Linked DNA regions of Homo sapiens: all the other regions are linked to region 1. Evidence: fine-mapped expression QTL. A gene starts in region 1. Each other region holds a variant in brackets. All regions are shown on one strand. Distances are between the middles of the regions.

Region 1 (8,177 bases):
TTTTTTTGCTTTGCTTTTAAAAATTTTTTTCTAGCTCTATTGATGTATAATTGATAAACAGAAATGGTATATATTCAAGGTGTACAATGTGATGAATTGACATAGATATACATAGTGAAATGATTACCACAATGAAATCAATCAACACATCCACCACTACCATTTTGTGTGTGGACACTTAAGATCTATGGTCTTAGCAAATTTCAAGTAAACAATAGAGATAAACTATAGTCATCATGCTGTACATCAGATTGCCCAGAACTTGTTCATCTTATAACTAAAAGTTTGTACCCTTTGATTAACATCCCCCCACTTCTCCCCTCCAGCTACTGCCATTCTACTCTCTGCTTCTATGAGTTTGCTAAGTCACAATTTCTTCATCTATAAAATAGTAATTAAAAGATATCTTCTGTACATAGTTTCTTCTGAGACATAAAAAAAAATAATGCATTTATCCTGGTACCTGACATATAGTAGCTACTTCCCTTCCTTTCCCTGTCAGCAACAGCCTCAAGCCTATCTCAATATGTGGCTTGCTGGGCATTCCCCAAAATACCACTGATGACAAGATCACATTTCTTTTTTTGTTTGTTTTTGAGACAGAATCTTGCTCTTTCACCCAGGCTGGAGTGTAGTGGTGCCATCTCGGCTCACCGCAACCTCTGTCTCCCAGGTTCAAGCGATTCTCGTGCCTATGGCTCCCAAGCAGCTAGGATTATAGGCGTGCACCACCATGCCCAGCTAATTTTCGTATTGTTTGTAGAGATGGGGTTTAGCCACGTTGCCCAAGCTGGTCTCAAACTCCTGGCCTTGAGTGATCTGCCCACCTTGGCCTCCCACAGTGCTGGGATTACATGTGTGAGCCACCACGTCCGGCTTAAGATCGCATTTCTTATCAGAGGCTCGAGAGCTAAACCTTGTGCCTGCATCTCTTGTCCCCTTTGGTCTCACCTGCTCCAGGCAGCTCCGACAGGCTTCCTGGATCAGCTGCTCTGCGTCCACCTCCTCCCCAACATTGTCTCGCACGTTCAGTGCTGCCTTCTGGAAGAACTAGGGGAGCACAACAGAGGACAAGGTCAGAGTCCTGTTAATGTGCATCAACCTGAAGGAAACTGAATATAAAATAAGTCTTTATCCTAGCTTCATACAGAAGGGAAAAGTGATTATGAGCAGGGCTTTGGGATCAGCCAGATTTAGATTCACATTTCAGGCTTGACCTCCTCCCTTTATTCCCCCTCTTACGGATATAATCGTGGGGGTGCCCAACAGATTGAGGTGTAAATAGTGCAAAAAATCAGGACGGGCGCGGTGGCTCACACCTGTAATCCCAGCACTTTGCGAGGCCGAGGTGGGCGGATCACGAGGTCAGGAGATCGAGACCATCCTGGCTAACACGGTGAAACCCCGTCTCTACTAAAAATACAAAAAATTAGCTGGGCGTGGTGGCGGATGCCTGTAATCCCAGCTACTTGGGAGGCTGGGGCAGAGAACTGCTTGAACCCAGGAGGCGGAGGTTGCAGTGAGCCAAGACCGTGCCACTGCACTCCAGCCTGGCGACAGAGTGAGACTCTGTCTCAAAAAAAAAAAAAAAAATTTTTTTTTTTTTTTAGTAGAGATGAGGTCCCACTGTGTTGCCCAGGCTGTTCTCAAACTCCTGGCCTCAAGTGATCCTGCCTCGGCCTCCCAAAGTGCTGGGGTTGCAGGTGTGAGCCACTGTGCATGGCCCCAATAATGGTTATATTATTAAACAACTAATAAGAATACTTATTGGACACTTGTTATGTCTGGAGCACAGTGCTCAGCACAGTACATTTAAGTCACTTCATCCTTATAAGAGGTCAGCAAAAAAAACCACGTGCGTGACAAGGGCAGATTTTAAAAAAAAAAGGTATCTGAATTACCCTCAAGGAGGGAATAAAATTCTTGGGGGATTAAAAATTTGAAAACTGACCAGGTGCCCTGGCTCACACCTATAATCCCAGCACTTTGGGAGGCCAAGGCAGGCAAATCATTTGAGGTCAGGAGTTCGAGACCAGCCTGGCCAACAGTGAAACCCCGTCTCTACTAAAAATACAAAAATTAGCCCTGCAAGGTGGTGGGCACCTGTAATCCCAGCCACTAGGGAGGCTGAGGCATGAGAATCGCTGGAACCTGGGAAGTGGAGGTTGCGGTGAATCGATATTGTGCCACTGCACTCCAGCCTGGGTGACAGAGTGAGAATCTGTCTCAAAAACACAAAACAAAACAAAACAAAAACAACAAGAAAGGAAAACTTTAGATATCTGTATGTAGGAAAGAGACAGACTGGTGATGCAGGCAAGGACTGGGCTCCTCATGAGTCTTTCTCCTGTTATTTTTTATCCTGTGTCCCTCTCACCTTCATGTACTTGTTGAAGACAGTCTGGATCTCCTCGTTGATGCTGGGCTGCAGGACAGCTCGGAGGAGATCCATGGAGATGGCAGGATCTGTGAAACTGCATTCAGGAGGGAGACAGGGTGAGGGGGCATGTCCCAAACATATTCTTTCCCAGCCTCCCCAGTTAATTATGGACATAGAATTCCTTAACAATACTAGACAGCTTTTATTGAAAACTAGCTACATGCTCAGATTTTGTGCAAATCACAGAGGCATGACTTTATTTCTTTCTCATAATAACTCTATGAAGTGCATATTATTTTCAAAGTTTTTTTTTTTGAGACGGAGTCTCACTCTGTTGCCCAGGCTGGAGTGCAGTGGCGTGGTTTTGGCTCACTGCAACCTCTGCCTCCTGGGTTCAAGCAATTCTCCTGCCTCAGCCTCCTTAGTAGCTGGGATTACAGGTGTGCACCACCACGCCCGGCTAATTTTTGTATTTTTAGTAGAGACCGGGTTTCTCCATTTTGGTCAGGCTGGTCTCGAACTCCCAACCTCAGGTGATCTGCCCGCCTCAGACTCCCAAAGTGCTGGGATTACAGGCGTGAGCCACCGCGCCCGGCCAATTTTTTGTTATTTTTAGTAGAGACGGGGTTTCTCCATGTTGGTCAGGCTGTTCTGGAAGTCCCGACCTCAGGTGATCCACCCACCTCAGCCTCCCAAAGTGCTGGGATTACAGGCGTGAGCCACCGCGCCCGGCCCAAAGTGTTTTTATGAAATATAATACTTATACAGAAAAGTCTATACACTTTAATGAGTAATTATAGTGAACATCCATTTCACCACTATCAGCATCCCAAAGGCCCACCTTGTGCTCTCTCCCTTCCCTGACATGCATACTATTAATCCCTCTTTATAGTTGAGAAAACGGGCTCATCAGAGTCTGTTGATGAGAACACAGTTGTCTGACTCCAGAGCCTGTTCTCTTAAACTCCATGCTAACTGACCTCTTTAGAGCCCTCAACCACAGAGCCAGTGAATGTGAGGGATCTTAGGTATTGTTTATTCCACAACCCATCTCCTGTGCCCTTCCCCATTTTGTACGTGAGTTCAGAGAAGGAAGTGACTTGACTAGTTCAAGATCACACAGAGTTACAGAATCGGAGTCTCCTCTTCCTCAGTCCTGTGCTCTTTCTACCGGCTGTAGATCTCCATAGCCTTGTGCACTGGGGATCCCAAATCTGCCATGCAAGCCAGTGGCTGGGATATAAGCCCCATGCAGGGCCAGCCTTACCTTGTTGTCATCTGTGAGCGGCGGCCCCTCCGCTGCACCTGCCGGTGCTTTATCATTATGTTCCAAGGGTTCTGTGGGGACCAACGGAACAAATGTCACTGCGGCCTGTGACACTGGGGTGGGGTGGAGGTGGAGGGTGGGTATGAAGTTAAACCTGGACATCCCTGCTTCTCAGATCCGTCACCATCTCTCCCGCCTTGGGGTGGGACGATAGTTGTAAGGCCTCCTCCACAAAAGAGGAACTGAGGAAGTTTCCTGCCTTAAAAGTCCCGACCCTGCCTTCTGGCACGGCAGGAGGAAGGGAAGCAGTATTTACCGAGGGTCAACTCTGTGTCAGGTGATGTCCGGGGCGTTGTACCCGCCTTTATCTTCCCATCCCACAACAAGTTTTATGAGACAGGTACTAATCATTTCCATTTTATAGAAGAGGATCCTGGGACTCAGGGGGTTGACAGAGATGGCCCACGTCACCTAGCTAGGAGGGCGGCACCAGAATTTAAATCCAGGTCGTCGGGCTGCGAAAACGCCAACCCCCTCTGCAGCTCCAGCCTCCGCGTTCTCTCGCCCGCGGGCCAGGGTCCCAGGAGCCCCGAGGCCGTGCCCGGCCTGAGCCCAGACCTCACCGGGGGCGCCCTCACCGTAAGAACCAGCTGCCCCGCTGCGCCCGCATCCCCCAGCTCCAAGCCGCCCCTCTCGGCCCCGCTAGGTCCCCGCGGCTGCTCGGCGTCGCCAGTGGCTCCCATGGCGCCCCCGGCCCCCACAACTCCGCTGGACTCTGTCACCGGCCGGAAAGTGGCGCCGTGACGTCACTGGAGCGCGCTGCTCGTCCGCCCGGAAGCGCGACGCTGGAGCTGCGGGGTTACCATGGGAACCGAACCGCCGCGCCTCGCCCAGGACAGTTACACTTAGAGGCCTTGTAGGTGGAGGTCGTTGGGGCTTCCTCTCGGGAGGGCTGCGCCTCGATTGTGCAGTGTGGGTGTTCAGTGGCGGTTCAGTCAAGGGATGTTTCCCGCTGGGCCAAGGCCTGGGGATGACTGCGGGGTAGGAGGAAGGGACCAGTTTTCTGTAGGCTGGGGTTGGGGAGCAGAGGGAAGCGTTTGGTACAGCGGCGCCTGCAGTTCAGTTTTTGAAAACTAGATTTTAATATGCTCGGCCAGGGGCGGTGGCTCACGCCTGTAATCCCAGCACTTTGGGAGGCCGAGGCGGGAGGATCACTTGCCATCAGGAGTTCGAGACCAGCCTGGCCAACATGGCGAAACCCCGTCTCTACTAAAAATATAAAAATTAGCCGGGCGTGGTGGTGGGCACCTGTAATCCCAGCTACTCGGGAGGCTGAGGCAGGAGAGTCTCTTGAACCCAGGAGGCGGAGGTTGCAGTGAGCCGAGATCACGCCACTGCACTCCAGCCTGGGCGACAGAGGGAGACTGTCTCAAAAAAAAAAAAAAAAAAAGCACATTAGGCACATGTTAGGTCATCATCAAATGTTAATTATGCCGAGATCGCGCCACTGCATTCCAGCCTGGGGGACAGAGGGAGACTCTGTCTCAAAAAAAAAAAAAAAAAAAAAAAAAAAAGCATATTAGGCACATATGAGGTCATCATCAAATGTTAATTATCTCCATGAGCCAACATCAGCCTTCTAACCATAAGGGCGACTTCCTGGCTCCAAACTTTTTGATCCTATTAAGGAGGTTTTACCTTGTACCTGCCCATAGGACTAAGCAGTGCCAGTGGACACCATTAGGTATCACAGCTAACCAAAGGCATGACCAGGACAGATAAAGAAAAAAAGAAATGGAGAAAAAAGAAATAAAGGAGGTATATGTGGGCAGACTATTTGAGTCATACATAGCAACTTCTCTTGGGTTCTGCCAGCTAGACTTCATACAGTCCAAGAATGGCCTGTGTGGGTTAGAGGGACAAAGATGTAGGTGTTTGGTGCTTTTCATTAGTTCTTAACAAACTCAACTACTGCTTTTCTGTAGGTTTTTGATAGTTTCTTTTCTCTCTTTTTTTTTTTTTTGAGACAGAGTCTCACTCTGTTACCCAAGCTGGAGTGCAGTGGCATGATCTCCACTCACTGCAACCTCTGCCTCCTGGGTTCAAGCTATTCTCCTGCCTCAGCCTCCCACGTAGCTGGGATTACAGGCATGCACCAGCATGCCCAGCTGATTTTTGTATTTTTAGTAGAGACAGGGTTTCGCCATGTTGGCCAGGCTGGTCTCAAACTCCTGACCTCAGGTGATCTGCCCGCCTTGGCCTATTTGATAGTTTCTGAGTGGTCTGTTCCATTCTGTATTTTCTTGGTTGCTAGGATGAACAGGAGCCACAATTTTATTATGCTTGGTTATGTTATTAGCTTTGGCCATTAAGTAGTGTCGTGAATCCCTCCCTCTGTTATTTGGGCTAAAGCCATGTCCTTCCAATGCCCTTTAGGGCTCTCTTTGATTCTTTTTCCAATGGCCACCCCTCCATTTTTCCAGCCACCCACTAGGTTTCTCATCATCCAGGAATATTGTGTATATTGCTTACAGAATTTGATCCTCCCATCACAGGTCCCCTTTGGTAGTGCCAGGAATTTTCCCACACTCCAGCAGCCAATCCCTCTTCTTCTTGTCAGGAGAAGATATTCTTGGGGAGTATTGTGAAAGGGAAGGTTTTGGGACTGGGTTTGGGGCCATCCCTAGTCCTGCTCATACCTCAGCTGATACTCTGGGCAAGGTGTACACCTCTAGCCTGAACTGAGCTCTTGTCCCAACTCTCAGCATCATCATGATGTTAAGCTGCCTCTTTCTTCTGAAGGCACTTCTTGCTCTTGGGTCTCTGGAATCCTGGATAACTGCAGGAGAACATGGTGAGCTATCATTTGGGATCCCTGGCCAACAGTAACAGAAAGTGACTAGAGGAGAGGAGAACTCATCCCCTGCCTTCTCCCAGAGCAAGGTTGCTTGTAAGTGGAGATGATCATCTCTATAGGACAGGACTGGATGAATAGATTCTCAGGATGGCCTGGGTCATTCTTCCTGGCTTTCTTTACCCTCTCTGGACAAGGAGATAGGACTTCCAGTTGGGCTTACTAGAGGTTCTAGCTTTTCCCTAGAACTCATTAAATGAGAACAGGATCATCCCACCCTTTCTCTCTCGTTATCTGCAGGATGGCTGCTCCTTTAGCAGTGGTGGATATATGTTAGTATTTGTGTATGAGGAGGGGAAGGTGGTTGCAGAATTTTTTTTTTTTTTTTGAGATGGAGTCTCACTCTGTCACCCAGGCTGGAGTGCAGTGGCGTGATCTCAGCTCACTGCAAACTCCACCTCCCAGGTTCACGCCATTCTCCTGCCTCAGCCTCCCGAGTAGCTGGGACTACAGGTGCCCGCCGCCACGCCCAGCTAATTTTTTGTATTTTTAGTAGAGATGGGGTTTCACTGTGTTAGCCAGGATGATCTCGATCTCCTGACCTCATGATCCGCCCGCCTCGGCCTCCCAAAGTGCTGGGATTACAGGCATGAGCTATCGTGCCCAGCCAGAATTTTTTTTTTTTTTTAAGAGACAGGGTCTCATTCTGTCACCCAGGCTAGAGTGCAGTGGTGCAGAAATATTTTGGATAGAGATGCCTGGAGGGGCTGAAGGTCCATTCCCCATTTCTGAGGCCTGGCTAGTTACCCCAAACTCAAATAGTATCTTTTGCAGCAAAAGAGGGAGAATGCCCTCCCCATAAGAACCCATGCAAAGAGCTGTGCCAGGGTGATGAATTGTGTCCGGCTGAACAGAAGTGCTGCACCACAGGCTGTGGTCGGATCTGCCGAGACATTCCTAAGGGTATGTTGGCATGAGGGGCAAAATCTGGGCATACTCTCTGACATTGCCTCTGGGATAGATGGAAGTAGAGAGCTTCCCACCTTCTAGGTTGCCTCTGGAAGTCTCCCTTGCCTAGAGTACTTCTTCTTTACTCTTTTAGGGTCCCTCCTCCTTTAATTATTCAGTGCCCCCAGTTGTTTGCCTTCCATCAGGAAAGAGCGCACCATTGATTATCTATGTCTTTTACTTTGGACTCAAAGTTCCTGTGAAGGCTGGAGGGAAGAGTTGTAAAGGGAAGGCTGTGTAAGATAATGATTAAGAGAGTAGACCCTAGAGCCAAGCAGACCTTTTTAAGCCTTAAGCCTTAGCTCTTTATAAATCTTAAGCTTTTAGCCTCAGTTTCCTCATCTATAAAATGGGGATAATTGTGAGGATCAAATAAGATGTTCATGGCACAAGGTAAACGTCAGTAAATGTTACAGTAAATATTTGCTATTACTATTGTTGTTATTATTGTCTCTTTGTCTTAGCACCAGGGTTGAGAGGCTTAAATAAATCTCAGGACTTCCTTTTTCTGTTTTTCCCTTCTGCTGTGCCCGTGGGTGTTGCCAGGCACTATTTTCTCTCTCTCTCTCTCTTTTTTTTTTGAGACGGAGTTTCGCTCTTGTTGCTCAGACTAGAATGCAGTGGCGTGATCTCGGCTCACCGCAACCTCTGCCTCCCGGGTTCAAGTG
Region 2 (8,177 bases), 36 kb before region 1:
GTCCATTTTCAAGATGAAGAAACTGAGGCAAAGTGACTTCCCCAAGATCCACATCTGGGAAATAGAGGGGCTGGGATTTTAAGCCTAAGTTTGTGCAATTTTATTTATTTATTTATTTATTTTTAGAGAGGGAGACAGAGTCTTGCTCTGTCGCCCAGGCTGGAGTACAGTGATGCAATCTTGGCTCACTGTAACCTCTGCCTCCCAGGTTCAAGCAATTCTCCTGCCTCAGCCTCCTGAGTGGCTGGGACTACAGGCATGTGCCACCATGCGGCTAATTTTTGTATTTTTAGTAGAGGTGGGGTTTCACCATATTGGCCAGGCTGATCTGGAACACCTGGCCTCAAGTGATCCACCTGCCTCTACCTCCCAAAGTGCTGGGATTACAGGCGTGAGCCACTGTGCCTGGCCAGTTTGCACAATTTCAAACCTCGAATTACTCTTCATTTGGCTTATGGGCAAGATATTGGGACAAAAAAGGCATACTTCATTCATTAATTCAACACTCACTCATTCACCAACCATTGGTTAAAAAATAACTTGTCCTTCGGTATATGCCTTACATGTCTGGGCACAAAGCTGGTCTTCATGAAACCATGGGTTGTTAGAGCAGGAGGGCCCCTCAGAAATCTGGCCTATCACCTCCATTTTACAGATAGGTAGTCTGAGGCTTAGTGAGGGGAAGGGCTTATGCTGGGTCATATAAACAGTCAGAACTAGGAGATCTGAAGGTTGCGCATTCTCCACTATTATTATTTCTTCTTCTTTTTGCTTCCTTCTTCCTCCTCCTGCTTCTTCTTCCTTTTTTATTTATTTTTATTTATTTTATTTTTTTTGAGACAGAGTCTTACTCCATCACCCAGGCTGGAGTCCAATGGCACACTCTTGGCTCACTACAACCTCCATCTCCTGGGTTCAAGCGATTTTCCTGCCTCAAGTAATCCCAAGTAGCTGGAATTACAAGTAATCCCAAGTAGCTGGAATTACAGGCATGTGCCACCACACCCGGCTAATTTTTGTATTTTTAGTAGAGATGGGGTTTCACCATGTTGGCCAGGCTGGTCTCGAACTGCTGACCTCAAATGATCCACCTGCCTCAGCCTCCCAAAGTGCTGGGATTAGAGACATGAGCCACCGTGCCCGGCCTCTTCTTTCAGAGACAGAGTCTCACTCTGTTGTGAGGCTGGAGTGCAGGGGTGCGATCATAGCTCACTGCAGCCTCAAACTCCTGGGCTCAAGTGATTCTCCCACCTCAGCCTCCCAAGTATCTGGGACTACAGATATGTGCCCACCATGCCTGGCTAGTATTTTATTTTTTGTAAAGGTGGGGTTGCATGTTGCCCAGGCTGATCTTGAACTCTTGGCCTGAAGAGATCCTCCTACCTCTGCCTCCCAATGTGCTGGGATTACAAGTATGAGCTACCACCCACCATTCTTTGTTTTATTTTAATTTTTTAATTGGAGACAGCGTCTCGCCATGTTGCCCAGGCTGGTATTGAACTCCTGGGCTCAAGAGATCCACCTGCCTCAGCTTCCCAATGTGCTAGGATTAAAAGTGTGAGCCACTGCCCCCATTCTTAAATTCTGTATGGATATCTCCCTACAGCCTCCCTGAGAAATGGTCATCTAGCTCCTGTTTGGGTATACTCAGTGATACGGAGCTCATTACCTCCTGAGGCCACCTGTTCCCATTATTGTTCAACTATGACTATTAGGAAGTTCCCCCTTATATTGAACTAAATACCATCCAGTTCAGTTATTCTTATGTAGAATATAATATCTGTTGAACACCTGCTACATAGCAAGTGCTGAGCACTGGGAAATGTGATGATCTGTAGAACATAGAATGGGTTGTGAGCATAAGGTATGCTCAGTGCTATGATTGAGGAAACTACTAGAGACCACCTTGGACTCCCTGGTCTGGACACAGTGGGGGAAGGATCCCCGAGGAAGTGATGTTAGAGCTTAGAAAGATGATAGGGAAGTAGACAGATGAAGAGAGGAAAGATGGGAGTTTCTGGCAGAAAAAAACAGCATGTGCAAAGGCTTGAAGGTTCATAGAAGGTGGTGTTTAGAGTAGTCTTTTTTTTTTTTTTTTTTTTTTTGAGATGCAGTCTCCTTTTGTCGCCCAGGCTGGAGAGCAGTGGCATGATCTTGGCTCAGTGCAACCTTCGCCTGCCAGGTTCAAGTGATTCTTCTGCCTCAGCTTCCCAAGTAGCTGGGACTACAGGCGCCCACCACCACACCCAGCAGCAATTTTTTGTATTTTTAGTAGAGACAGGGTTTCACCATGCTGGCCAGGATGGTCTCGAACTCCTGACCTCGTGATCTGCCAGCCTGCACCTCCCAAAATGCTGGGATTACAGGCATGAGCCACCGTGCCCAGCCTAGAGCAGTATTTTAAAGTCTGATCAGAGCAGACAGCAACATGATGTGGAGGGAAGGAGTGAGATTAGAAGGGCCAATGGGACCTTGCTTGGCTACATTAAGCAATTTGGGCCTTACCTAATCCCTTGAATAAACAAAAGAACAAAGGCTGGGCTCAGGGGCTCATGCCTGTAATCCTAGCACTTTAGGAGGCTGAGGCAGGCGGATCACTTGAGGTCAGGAGTTTGAGACCAGCCTGGCCAACATGATGAAACTTTTTTTTTTTTTGAGACGGGGTCTTGCTCTGTTGCCCAGGCTGGAGTGCAGTGGTGTGATCTCGGCTCACTGCAAGCTCTGCCTCCCAGGTTCACACCATTCTCCTGCCTCAGCCTCAGCCTCCCAAGTAGCTGGGACTACAGGCGCCCACCACCATGCCCGGCTAATTTTTTTGTATTTTTAGTAGAGATGGGGTTTCACTGTGTTAGCCAGGATGGTCTCGATCTCCTGACCTCGTGATCCGCCCATCTCAGCCTCCCAAAGTGGTGGGATTACAGGCCTGAGCCACCGTGCCCGGTCGATGAAACCTTGTCTCTACAAAAAGTAAAAAATTTGCCGGGTGTGGTAGCTCACACCTGTAATCCCAGTGCTTTGGGAGGCTGAGGTGGGCGGATCACCTGAGGTTGGGAGTTTGAGACCAGCTTGACCAACATGGAGAAACCCTGTCTCTACTAAAAATACAAAATTAGCCGGGCATGGTGGCTCATGCCTGTAATTCCGGCTACTCGGGAGGCTGAGGCAGGAGAATTGCTTGAACCCAAGAGGCGGAGGTTGTGGTGAGCCGAGATTGCACCATTGTACTCCAGCCTGGGCAACAAGAGCAAAACTCTGTCTCAAAAAAAAAAAAAAAAAAAAACCAAAAACAAAAATTAGCTGGGCGTAGTGGTATGTGCCTGTAATCCTAGCTACTCAGAAGGCTGAGGCATGAGAATCACTTGAACCTAGGAGGCGGAGGGTGCAGTGAGCCGAGATTGTGCCACTGCATTCCAGCCTGGGTGACAGAGTGAGAGTCTGTCTCAAAAACAAAACCCCAAAAAACCAAAAAACAATAAAAACTAAATTGGAATCCCATGGGTCTCCCTCACCCTTTGGCACCCTGCCTGCCTGGGGGAGGCCTTATTTAGCTTGGCCCAGCCCTGCTGAGCTTTCCTTGGGAATGTCTATATATAGGGGAAGGGGGCAGCCCAGTTGCCACTGTCCATCTGCATTCCTTGGTGTCCAGCCCCCCTTTCCTGGCCCCAGAGCCTGCTATCGGTTGTCTTGGTGCTCTTTCTGTCCACGTAGCCACTGTCTACAAGCCTTGCCTACTCCCCAGTGCCCAGCCTGCACCTTGTGGATTCTCAGGTTGGGCTCCCTCTGGACTTGGTCTGCCCACCCCTTTACTCCCCAGATGACCAGATTTCTTCACTGAGCTCTAGGAAGGGGCCAGCTGTCCTTTTACCACTTAAAGAACCTTCCCCTGCCTACTCCTTACTTCAAAAAAAGTGAATCCAAACACCCTTTCCCTGGAGAAGGTAACTTTCAGAGAAGGATCTTTGCTTTCAATGATTATTTCTCCTCCAAATGCACATCCTCCTCTCCTCCATCCCTCCATACATTTTTCCATCTGGACAGGTGCCCCAAGGACTGTCTGTCCCAACTTCCCTCCAGTCAGGATTAATAATAAGAATCATCAACATGGGTGGGCATGGTGCCTCATGACTGTAATTCTAGCACTTTGGGAAACCAAGGTGGAAGGATCCCCTGAGCCTAGGAGTTCGAGACCAGCCTGGGCAACATGGTGAAACCCCATCTCTATAAAAATACAAAAAAAAAAAAAGCCAGGGGTGGTGGTGCACCTCTAGTCCCAGCTACTCGGGAGGCTGAAGTGGGAGGATCACTTGAGCCCAGGAGATAGAGGCTGCAGTGAGCTATAATAGCACCACTGCACATCAGCCTTGGTGACAGAGTGAGTATAGACCTTTATAATTTACAAAGCTCTGCAGTCAAGTGGGGATAATCGTTGCTACCTCATAGGAGGA[G/A]CACTAGATGAGATCATGTTAAAATGCTTAGCACAGTGTGTGGCACGTCATGGGGTTCAGTAAACAGTGGCCTACCTGTCACTTTCTCCTCCTATCCCCTGCCCCTTACCATGGTTCAAAGACGGGACATTCCTCTTGCCAAGCACCAACGCTGTGTACCCAGCACAAGCTAGGTGACTTATACCCGGGTTCCCATTTACCATGGTCTCTCTGTGAGGGAGACCCCACAGACAGGTCCAATCCCACAGATGAAGAAATGGCTCAGAGAGGCACTGCTACCGGCCCAAGGTCACACAACTCGCAGAGGCTGGCCTTGGATCTTGGGTTTTGGACTTCAAGGCTTGTACTCTCCCCATTTTACCATGCTGCCTCACCCTTTACTACTCTGATCATCCTTACCATCTTGGAGCCAGTGTGCTTCCTCGGTCGGGGGGACTCCAAGGCAGTGGAACAGGGCAGGCCTTCCTCACAAGAATCTAGGACGTCAAGGCCTGCCACCTGCTTGGAGGCTTAAATTTCTCTGCAAGGGCCCTTGGCTAAATTAGGTAATGGGTTCAGACTGTGGGAGGGGTGGGACTCGCTGACCCCAGGATCTGATTGGGCAGGGTCTCCAGTGCTGGGGAGCAGGGAGGTGGGAGGGGAGGGTGCCCCTACAAATCCCGGGGGCTAGAGCAGGCCAGGTCATCTTTGGGTGGTGGAGTGCAAAGGAGGCGACCTGCAACAGAGGAGTCCCGGTCACCAGCAACCATGGTAAGGACAAGAGGGGACTTTGTGCCTTTACTCACGGGAGCACTCTGGACCCCTTTCAGGCCAGGCCTGGGTGCTCTGTGGGGCAGTAACTTGGATGTTTGAGGTTGGAGCATGGAGGTTCCTGGAACCCAGGTGTCTTGGAGGAAGGCCTTTGACTTTTCTTGAAAGGGGAGGGCTGGGATATTCCAGAGATTGATCCTTAAGGCTTGCTGACTGCCTACTCACTTCTGGAAACTTCCAGCAGTGTCATTCATAGACCTGTGAAGAGCTCTTAGCTTGTTTCCTTCACACAGTGGGGACTCTGAGGGGTCAGAGTGAGTCACCCAGCAGGCCAGTGGCAGGGGTGAGCCAGAAGCCTGGCCAAACCCTCCTATCATCATGGAGAGAAGAAAGCCTCCTCCAGAAGACGGGAGGCCGGCAGGGCGTGGGGCCTGCTCAGATGCAGGGCTCTGGGAGCCCTGAGGATGATGGGAAGGGGCAGAAGATGACAGACCAGAGTTAGAGAGACTCCGCTCTCCTAGAGAGGGCTTCTGATTTGGAGCTGTTGTTTTGGTCTGAGATCCCCCTCCCCACTTCACTTCAAGGAGTAACTAGATCCCAGAGGCCAGCTGCTGTTGCCCATGCCTGACTAAAAATAGCCTGCCCTCCTGGCATAGGGAAAGAGGAGGAGAGGAAGGAGGGGGAGAAGGAGGAGCACTGGTGGCCAGCTGGCTGAAGAGCTCCTTGGAAGCCTCACCCTGTCCTCACTGCCAGCCTCAATCCAAAGCCTCTGACCCAGATGGCCTGGCTTGGATATGACGTGGAAACCCCTGCAGAAATCTCACTTTCATGTCAAGGCCTCCATCACATTCGGCCCCCCATGAGGGGCCTTTTCTCCAATGACTGAATCCTAAGAAGGAAGCTGACAGCCTCCGACTCTGCCAGTTCTCTGAGGGGCGGGATGATGTGTCTTTTATCTCTTCTTTGTGGTTCCAGTGCCTGATCTGTGGCCTGACATGCAGCAAGTACTCAATAACTTTGTGTTGCATTATTATTTATTTGAGAACAAACATTTTATTGAGCAACTATTAAAGTACCGGGCACCATTAGGAGCTGCAGAAAACTGGAAAATAGTGCTGGAATGGTGCTAGCCCTTTACAAAGCCCTTTCACACCCCTGATATCTCATCCCTGAAAAGCTACAGAGAAAAGATGAAGGCACGCTAATTGACGTGCCTAAGGTCACTGGGGGGTGGGGGGGGTTCCCGACTTGGCCTTCAATTGACAAGTGAGAAGGCCTTGGGCTTAACTTGTTGTCTCCTCTCTTTTGCTCAAAACTGGGGTCACAGGCTGCGCGCGGTGGCTCACGCCTGTAATCCCATCACTTTGGGAAGCTGAGGCAGGCAGATCGCCTAAGGTAGGGGGTTCGAGACCAGCCTGACCAACATGGAGAAACCTCATCTCTACTAAAAATACAAAATTAGCCGGGCGTTGTGGTGCATGCCTGTAATCCCAGCTACTCGGGAGGCTGAGGGAGAAGAATCGCTTGAACCCCGGAGGTGGGGGTTGCGGTTGTGGCGAGCTGAGATCGTGCCATTACACTGCAGCCTAGGCAACAAGAGCAAAACTCCGTCTCAAAACAAAACAAAACAAACAAACAAAAAAAACTGGGGTCAGGCCGGGCATGGTGGCTCACGCCTGTAATCCCAGCACTTTGGGAAGCCGAGGTGGGCGGATCACCTGATGTGAGGAGTTCAAGACCAGCCTGGCCAACATGGTAAAACCTCGTCTCTACTAAAAATACAAAAATTAGCTGGGCGTGTTGGCGCATGCCTGTAATCCCAGCTACTCGAGAGGCTGAGGGAGGAGAATCGCTTGAACCCAGGAGGTGGAGGTTGCAGTGAGCCGAGATCACGCCATTGCACTCCAGCCTGGGCGACAGGGCGAGACTGTCACAAAAACAAAAAGCAAAAACAAAAACTGGGGTCAGAAGCTGGGCACAGTGGCTCAAGCCTGTAATCCTAGCACTTTGGGAGGCCGAGGTGGCAGGATCACTTGAACCCAGGAGTTCAAAACCAGCCTGGGTAATATAGTGGGACCCCATCTCTACAAAAAATTTTAAAAATTAGGCGTGGTGTATGCTATAGTCCCAGCTACTCAGGAGGCTGAAGTGGGACGATTGCTTGAGCCCAGGAGGTTGAGGCTGCAGTGAGCTATGATCACACTACTGCACTCCAGCATGTGTGACAGAACGAGACAAAACAAAACTGTGATTGGGTGCTGTGCGGGCACACAATTATGTGACAAGTTTGAAGTTGTTCTTCTGGAGAACCAAGGGCGCTGACAGAGTGGGGGTTGGGAAGAATGGCTTTGAGGTGAGGAACTGCTCTGGGGCTGCCTCTTCAGCTCAGACTTTCTCTGTGTCTCCTGCAGACGGACCAGCAGGCTGAGGCCAGGTCCTACCTCAGCGAAGAGATGATCGCTGGTGAGTGAGGCGCGGCAGGCTGGGGGCTGGGTGGATGTATGCTGGGGACATGTTGGCCTCTAGGCAGGGTGGGGGTTGGGGGGGGGTAGGTGTGAGGCTGACAGTCCAGCAGGCCTCACCTCTGCCCTCTGCCCTCCCTCGCAGAGTTCAAGGCTGCCTTTGACATGTTTGATGCTGATGGTGGTGGGGACATCAGCGTCAAGGAGTTGGGCACGGTGATGAGGATGCTGGGCCAGACACCCACCAAGGAGGAGCTGGACGCCATCATCGAGGAGGTGGATGAGGACGGTGAGCGGGTGTCCCTCGGAGGCAGGGGATGGTGGGGAGAGGCGGCAGCGGCTGGGCTCAGGCTCAGTCTGCCACCTGCTGCCCGCAGGCAGCGGCACCATCGACTTCGAGGAGTTCTTGGTCATGATGGTGCGCCAGATGAAAGAGGACGCGAAAGGGAAGAGCGAGGAGGAGCTGGCCGAGTGCTTCCGCATCTTCGACAGGTGCGCTGGGGGCCCGGGAGCCGAGGGA
Region 3 (8,177 bases), 24 kb before region 1:
TCCAGCCTATCATGACCTGACATCTATGCGACTTCCCCATCCTGTATTATTTTTTTTTTTTGAGACAGAGTTTTGTGCTTGTCAGCCAGGCTGGAGAGCAGTGGCGTGATCTCGGCTCACTGCAACCCCCGCCTCCCGAGTTCAAGCGATTCTCCTACCTCAGCCTCCTGAGTAGTTGAGACTACAGGTGCCTGCCACCATGCCCGGCTAATTTTTATATTTTTAGTAGAGATGGGGTTTCATCATGTTGGTCAGGGTGGTCTTGAATTCCTGAGCTCAGGTGATCTGCCCGCCTTAGCCTTGCAAAGTGCTGGGATTATAAGCGTGAGCCACCACGCCTAGCTCTGTATTCCTCTCCTTACATACTCCTGAACTTCTTGCTATCCAAGGAATGTGCATCTCCCTCAGGGCTCAATTTCCTTCTCCAAAAACCTTTCCCTGACCCTCCTATTCTATTGGGTGCTCCACCTGTGAACTTACATAGCAATATGTGAGTTCAGCACCAACATTTATTCAGTGCTTACTATGTGCCAGGCATTGTTCTAAGGTCCTTCCACTGTCTTATGAGGTAGGTACCAGTATTTTCATTTTACGGAGAGGTTAAATGTAACTGCCTACATGTTTACGGGCAACATGGAGGTGGAGCCAGGATCCTGAAACAGTTCTGCTTACCTGGTCTGAGCTTTTCTTTTTCTTTTTTTTTTTTTTTGAGATGGAGTCTTGCTCTTGTTGCCTAGACTGGAGTGCAATGGACGATCTCGGCTCACTGCAATCTCCGCCTCCCAGGTTCAAGCGATTCTTCTGCCGTAGCCTCCCGAGTAGCTGGGATTACAGGCACTCGCCACCATGCCTGGCCAATTTTTTGTATTTTTAGTAGAAACGGGGTTTCACTATGTTGGTCAGGCTGGTCTCAAACTCCTGACCTCAGGTGATCCACCCGCTTTGGCTTCCCAAAGTGCTGGGATTACAGGCATGAGCCACCGTGCCCAGACTGGTCTGAGCTTAATAACTGGGCTGTATGGCACTTATTCCGCAGTCCCCGCTGTTGATGGGCCTGTCTGTCCCCCAAATTCCAGCCTCTTTAAGGGCAGAGCTGTATTTTCCCTGTTTTGTCCCCAGCCCCAAGCAGAGGGCCTTTGTCTTGTAGGAATTCAATAAAATGGGAATCATAATAACCAGAAATTCAAATACTTCCTGACCAGGCTTCTTTCTGTTGCAAGTGCCAGAAATCTAAATCAAACGGACTTAAACCAAAAAGGGATTTGTTAGTTTATCGAACTGGGATGGCAAAGCATGAACTGGAGGCCAGAGTCTCAGTTAATGTCATCTCTCCGACTCCCAGCTGTTTGTCTCTACTTGGCTTTCTTCCGTCTGCAGCGGGCTCCCCCAGCAGCTGAGACTGACTCCCTTCTCTTTTAGCAACCCCATTAGTAAAATAACTTTACTCTCTCCCAGTGATTAATTCCAGACAACACCAGTTGAATCTGAACTACAGTTTAGACCTGTGACTGGCCCAAGGCAGGCCATGTGGCCATCTAAGGTACCAAACACCGTGACCAAGGACCACATGGCAGATGAAAACACATCCACCACAGTTAGTATTCGAAACATTTCTTTTAGAGATAAGGTCTTACTCTGCTGCCTAGGCTGGAGTGATAAGCTTACTATAACCTTGAATTTCTGGCCCCAAGTGATCCTCCCACCTTGGCCTCCCAAGATGTTGAGATTGCTGATGTGAACCACCAGGCCCGGCCAAGATTTATTTATTTTTCTTTTAAAATTTATTATTTGAGATGGGGGTCTCACTGTGTTGCCCAGACTGGTCTTGAATTCTTAAGTTCAAGCAATCAATCCTCCTGCCTCCGCCTCCCAGAGTGCTAGGATTACAGGGAGTGAGCCACCACACCCGGCCCTGGCCAGCATATATTGACTAATTTAGTGCCAGGTTCTGAGCTCTGGTTTTCTCCAGTATCCGCTAACCTAGTGATTTTCAACCGTGGGAGACCTTCAGAACCTGGAGGGCAGTTTGGGGTCAAGAATTTGCCTAACAAGTTCCGGGTGATGCTGCTGCTGCTGGAAGGACCACATTCTAAGAACATTGCTCTAAATTTTGTTCTTAAGCAGACCGCAGCAATGACATCACTTGGAAACTATTTAGAAACCAAAATAAATAAACAGACTGGATCTTAGGCTCCACTTCACACCTACAGAAAAGAATTTAACAAGATCCCAAGTGTATTTGTATGAATGTTAGATTAAGAAAAAACCCAAGAGGAGAGACCTAAGAGCACAATTATAGACATGAAGGGACCCAACTTCCAATCCCAAACCCCTCCCGCTTCAGGCTTGCACAACCAACCAGCTGCTAACAGACCTGAAGGAGTTGGGTGCAAGGTTGGAGCACATCTGGATGCTGCTTATCTACCTTGGAGATCTTCCTGAAGGGCTTTGTGGGGGCCCTATCACTTCAACCTACTCTTCCACCTGCCGACCCTTGTGGGGACCCAGCTGGTCAGCAGGGGTGTTTCCTCCTAGGGGCTCAAAGACTGGAGCCTTCATCAGGCCAGGGGAAAGAGGCAGCCCAAGGGGCTGGGGGCTCCCTGGGGGATATGCAGCAGGAGGCGACTGTGCCCCCTTGGAGGTGGAGCTCCACCGGGGACCTGGGCTAGAGCCTGGAGACCAGAGCTCAGACCTGAGTCCTGCCAGGGAAGGGGCTTTTTTCCTGGCTGTCTCCCCAGGCCCTGGACCTGCTTAGGGTGACCTAAGCATTCTTCTTCAGGACAGAACATGGGTGGCTGTGTGTTGGGATCCCCCCCCCAACACACACGCTTGTTCCTTCTACAGCTATAGGAGTAGGTTTCAGCCTAAGGTCTGGCTCAGCCTCATCTGCAACACAGCTGAGGGAGCTCCAACATTCACTAACATTGCTGGTACACATCACCGACTCCATAGACAGGAGGCATTATTGTGACACTCATTTTATAGATGAAGAAACAGATGCAGAGTCATAAAATAAGGTACAAGGGAATAAATCTTTGTCACCCCATTGCTTGGCCCCACATCCTTAAGTTCCACCTCTGCCTACCCTGAGTACCTCCAACCCTAGTGAAATTACAACGCAACAACTTGTCTAAAAAAGGACAAAAATGCATTTATTTAATATACAAGGGCTCAACCGAGGCTTAATTTAAAAGACAAAAACAAAACAAAAATACCACAGCTCAAGATAAAGAGTCCTATACAGAAATCACAAAAAGGACAGACCATCTAAGGAAAAATTAAAAAGACGACACAAGGACAGGCTGGGCAGCCTGGGTCAGGGCTCCTGGCTGGTGACCTGCTTTGAGTAGGTTTCTTGCAGGTACTTCTTAAAAGCTGGAAGAGAACAGGCAGGTCTCAGTGAGTGATGGAGACAGGATGAGTTAATCTTTACTATTTATTATTTTTGAGATGGAGTCTCACTCTGTTGACCAAGCTGGAGTGCAATAGCATGATGTCTGCTCACTGCAACCTCTGCTTCCTAGATTCAAGTGATTCTCTTGCCTCAGCCTCCTGAGTAGCTGGGACTACAGGTGCCTACCACCATACCCGGTTAATTTTTTTTGTATTTAGTAGAGACGGGGTTTCACCATGTTGGCCAGGCTGGTCTCAAACTCCTGACCTCATGTGATCCACCCACCTCGGCCTCCCCAAGTGCTAGGATTACAGGCATGAGCCACTGTGCCTGGCCCAGGATGAATTAAGGTGGGCAAGAGGCAGCTGGACCAGGGATGCAAAGGTCGGAGGAGGTGGAGGAGGGGCTGGTTTCCCAGCCCGGCATTCTCCCTGCACTGCCCATCTAGGCAGCTCTCCTGGAAGGGCTTGCTTCCAGTGAGACTGGAGGGCACAGGCAAGGCACTCTACTGAATTCCTGGCCTCAAGCTATCCTCCTGCCTTGGTCTCACCAATAATTTCCCAAAATTATTTATCGCCAAACATTTTTATTCTGCTATAAAACAATTGCTATTTTATAGCAAATAGGAGCACTGGGGCAGAAACAGAAGTGGGTTGCTGCCGACACTCCACCCTGCCCCAACCAACCCGGTCCCAAGTCACTGGGCTCCTTTTGTTTGAGGGAGCCTTTGAAGGTTGGGGGAGGGATCACCCTGGGCTCAAGGACTGAGGACTCACCTGTGGGGTTTTTCCAGAGCTCGGCAGCATGTGTGTTCAAGGGACTATCAATGTTGGGTTCTGTGGGTGGAGAGAAAGAGAAGGTCAAGGCGGTAGAAGAGGCTGACCCCAGGGAGTCCTGACAGGTTCCCAAGTTGCATGGAGGGGAGGGGTGGTCTCTAAAGTCACCTCCTAGAAGGCTCTGGATGGAGAGCAGAATGGTCCTGACATCATACAGGGCAGACCACTTTTCCTTCAGGATGTCCAGGCATATGTTACCCTGGGTGTCCACGTTGGGGTGATAGCAGGGCGTGAGGAACTTCACTGTGGGCGCATTGTAAGGGTAGCCACTGGGGAACTCTAGCGAGAGCTTATACCTCAGGTCTTCATATACCTGGCATTTGGAGAAACAGTTGCAGAGTAAGCTCCAGCAGCAGCCTCATGTCCCAACCCAAGCCCCACACAAGGGGCTTGCTAGAATCTTGAGTTTCTCTGGGACCGGACAGTAGACAAACTGTTGAGCTGGTTCTGATGCTCCCCACTGCCTTTTTAAAAAGTTTTTTTAGTTTAGTTTTTATTTTAGAGACAGGGTTTCACCATGTTGCCCAGGCCAGTCTCAAACTCCTGGGCTCATGTGATCTGCCTGCCTCAGCCTCCCAAAGTGCTGAGATTACAGGTGTGAGCCACTATGCCTAGCCTGATGCTTTCCTCTTATCTGGTGGAGACATCAGTGACTCTTTGGTCTAAGGATTGTAAATTGGCATCCTGTGCTTTAGTTCAATTAGAATATTAGTTGCTGGCCGGGCG[T/C]GGTGGCTCACGCCTGTAATCCCAGCACTTTGGGAGGCCGAGGCGGGTGGATCTTGAGGTCAGGAGATCGAGACCATCCTGGCTAACAAGGTGAAACCCCGTCTCTACTAAAAATACAAAAAATTAGCCGGGCGTGGTGGCGGGCGCCTGTAGTCCCAGCTACTCGGAGGCTGAGGCAGGAGAATGGCGTGAACCCGGGAAGCGGAGCTTGCAGTGAGCCGAGATTGCGCCACTGCAGTCCGCAGTCTGGCCTGGGCGACAGAGCGAGACTCCGTCTCAAAAAAAAAAAAAAAAGAATATTAGTTGCTAATACGTAAAAATTAGATTTGGCACAGATTTGGACTTCTGACTCATCTTAAACCTGATCTGCAGCAATGGGAAGCTGCCTTCTTGAGATCTGGCCCTATTGGCCAAAGTCCTCACTTCATCCATTTCCTTGCTGTCTGTCCCCCCATGTAAACATCTAAGATAGGCAGCCCTGCTTTAAACCCACCCTTTATTGCACAGAGGGAAAGAACAAGGCCACATGGCTCAGAGAATGTAAACAGTCACAGGAGGAGTGTCTTGCTCCGCCAAAGGCTTGAAGCAGAGCTCGCACTTGGATCTCACTTCCCACCTTTCCCCAGACTCACTCACCCATCCCAGCCCTACACTTACTGTTCCAGCTGCTCCATGGATGGTCCCTACCCATTTGAAAAGGTTGTCTGATTCAGGGAAGGCAGAAATCCCTTTATCGCCAGACATCTGGGGAGAAAACACATTTGTTGGAATGTGGAGTACACTTTTGGGCATAGCAAAGGTCAGTGGGTGAGCTTTCCCCTTAATTTTATATATATATATATATATATATATATATGCTCACATACACACACACACATATATATGTATACACACACACATATATATGTGTATATATATGAGATATAGATGGGGTTATGCCATCTCTACTAAAAAATATATATTTACATATATATATATATAGAGAGAGAGAGAGAGAGATTGAGAGAGAGAGATAGACAGAGACAGACACACACACACACTCTGTCGCCCAGGCTAGAGTGCAGTGGTGCGCTCGGCTCACCGCAACCTCTGTCTCCACGGTTCAAATGATTCTTGTGCCTCAGCCTCCCGAGTAGCTGAAATTACAGGCATGCACCACCATGCCTGGATAATTTTTGTATTTTTAGTAGAGACAGGGTTTTGCAATGTTGGCCAGGCTGGTCTCGAACTCCTGACCTCAAGTGATCCGCCCACCTTAGCCCCCCAAAGTGTTGGGATTATAAGGTGTGAGCTACCGCGCCCAGCCTCCCCTTAATCTCATCACTCTGATCCAAAATAAAGCAACCAAATTCATAGGCTAGAAATACCAAGAAGGGCGGGGAGTTGGGTGTGGGTAAAGCTTGGTTGGGGCTAGGAAGTAGGGACACACTGGATAGGGAGGGTCTTGTATGACTTCAGGGAAGTGTTCGAGATAACTTCGTGTGGGGGGATGGAATTGGGAGGAGGGACTGCTGGAAGAAATGGTGTAGGTGGGGTGTATGAACTTCTTTCCCAGGAGGGAGCAAATTACATTACCCCTATGTCTAGCAAAAAAGCTGACGGAAAAAAGGAGGCTACTGAAAATTGGATGGAAGGCTGGGGTTCTGGGCACTTAATCACTCACCATGAGGGTCATCAGCTCCTGCTGTAGCCTGAAAAAAGAGTATTCGGGGTTACCTGGGAGTCTGGATGGGCCAGGCCTCCAGACGGTGCATCTTCTCCCACCTGAATCTCAGGGGGAGCCGTCATGGAGGCTCCCCACATCACCAAGGTCAGGCTCAGCTCAGGGTATACTCACCAGATCCACAGGACGATCCTAGCGAGTCCTCACCCTCCCTAATTCCAGACTCCCTCGGGATGATTCTGGCATGTTCTTAATTCCCCAGGCTTTAGCATCTCTTCCTTGCCCGACTCAACTTCTCCCTTCCCCTGTCTCGGCCAAGTCACGAGGGTCCTTGAGCGTCTTCATCTAGGCCCACCAGGGAAGGAGTCTGGCAGCGCCCCTACCCTCCCATTCTCCTTCGGGAGAGTCTCAAAGAGCGGTCTGAGCTCCTGGCCTGTCCCCCATCTCTCGAATCTCACCCGCGCAAGGAGGTGGGAGTCCCGGAAGTCTCCGCCCTCGACACCCATGCCCAGGGGAATGCCAGGCCCCGAGCTCCTGGTGTGTTCTCCTGCACCCGCAGATCTCCCGCTCCAGGAGGTGGCGGCGGGGGGTGGTCCTAGAAATCTTTGCTCTGGGTACCAATGCCTAGGGCATGGCAGGCCCGGCGAGTGGTAGGCCGCATCACTCACCTTTTGCCCACCGGACCCCGGGCGGCGCCCCCGCTCGGCTCAGCTCCTTTACGGGCGGCGGCGACGCTAGTGGCGGCTGGGTCGCGGTTTTGGGAAGCCATCCGGGCGGCGTTGGCAGAGAGACAGGAACTCGGAGAACACGACTGCAACTGCAGGACTGCGGGCCCGCCCGCCCGCGTTTGAATTGTAACCCTCTGGGGGCGTCGACCAATCAATGGCTCGCTTGGGTTTGATCCAGCCAATGAGACGCTCCGGAGCGCTCTATTGCTGCGCCACTGCTAGACCTACCCACTGGCGCACCGCTATTGGGCGGCAGAATCCCGCTTCTGACAACCGATTGGTAGATGATGCTGCCATTAACTAACGAATCCGTAGCGAATTGGTGGCCGTTGGAAAACGCTAACCATTAAAGGGCCAAGAAAACGTCCACGTGGGATGAACCCCTCCTTCTGGCTACACGTCTTACTCCGCGTGGGAACACTCGGCACGCCCAGCCTTGATCCAATTTCCCTCGGGCAGGGAGTGCCTCCAATCCTGCAGCACTGGTACCCTCCCACCATTATAATCGCCTGGGCACCTTTGCTGCGTCCTAAGTATCTGAAAATCCCAGCGAGGGGAAAAACTAAAGGCTGATGGCCAGAGCAGCAGGCTCCCTATTAGAAAACATAGGTCCATACATCTCCGCAGAGATGACAGAAATAAAAAAAGGCAACATTGGTTCAGGCTGGTCGCAGTGGCTCACGTCCGTAATCCCGAACACTTTGGAAGGCCCAGGCAGGAGGATCACTTGAACCCAGGAGTTCGAGACCAGCCTGAGCAACAGGATAGGGAGACCTGTCTCTACTTAAAAGAAAAAAAAAAAAAAAGAAAAGAAAAAAAAAAAAGGCTGG

Direction of the effects. Alleles are on the strand shown, and positions count from the first base shown. SD is a standard deviation of normalised expression in the study named. Not every link is listed here.
For the expression in ileum of the gene that starts at base 4,441 in region 1, T is the low allele of the variant in region 3 and C is the other (moderate effect, 0.55 SD a copy in GTEx).

The links. PIP is the estimated chance that this variant, and not a neighbour inherited with it, causes the effect.
Region 2: its variant is fine-mapped to the expression of DNTTIP1 in blood mononuclear cells (TOPMed, PIP above 0.99).
Region 3: its variant is fine-mapped to the expression of DNTTIP1 in ileum (GTEx, PIP 0.96).

The regions. Positions count from the first base shown.
Region 1 is chr20:45,788,218-45,796,394 of GRCh38, reverse strand. It overlaps DNTTIP1 (deoxynucleotidyltransferase terminal interacting protein 1), which reads right to left and starts at 4,441. Exons shown (of 13, transcript NM_052951.3): 1 at 4,286-4,441; 2 at 3,648-3,718; 3 at 2,378-2,474; 4 at 952-1,050. The coding sequence starts at 4,390. WFDC3 (WAP four-disulfide core domain 3) reads left to right here and starts at 4,512. Exons shown (of 7, transcript NM_080614.2): 1 at 4,512-4,563; 2 at 6,413-6,501; 3 at 7,336-7,464. The coding sequence starts at 6,420. RefSeq lists silencers at 3,739-3,878, 4,089-4,358.
Region 2 is chr20:45,824,264-45,832,440 of GRCh38, reverse strand. TNNC2 (troponin C2, fast skeletal type) reads left to right here and starts at 5,129. Exons shown (of 6, transcript NM_003279.3): 1 at 5,129-5,195; 2 at 7,607-7,658; 3 at 7,803-7,946; 4 at 8,035-8,149. The coding sequence starts at 5,193. The variant G/A (reference allele first, on the strand shown) is at 4,446.
Region 3 is chr20:45,811,907-45,820,083 of GRCh38, reverse strand. UBE2C (ubiquitin conjugating enzyme E2 C) reads right to left here and starts at 7,440. Exons shown (of 6, transcript NM_007019.4): 1 at 7,288-7,440; 2 at 6,620-6,647; 3 at 5,614-5,700; 4 at 4,339-4,543; 5 at 4,171-4,230; 6 at 3,132-3,375. The coding sequence starts at 7,388. The coding sequence ends at 3,317. RefSeq lists an enhancer at 821-1,469 and a silencer at 7,448-7,637. The variant T/C (reference allele first, on the strand shown) is at 4,957.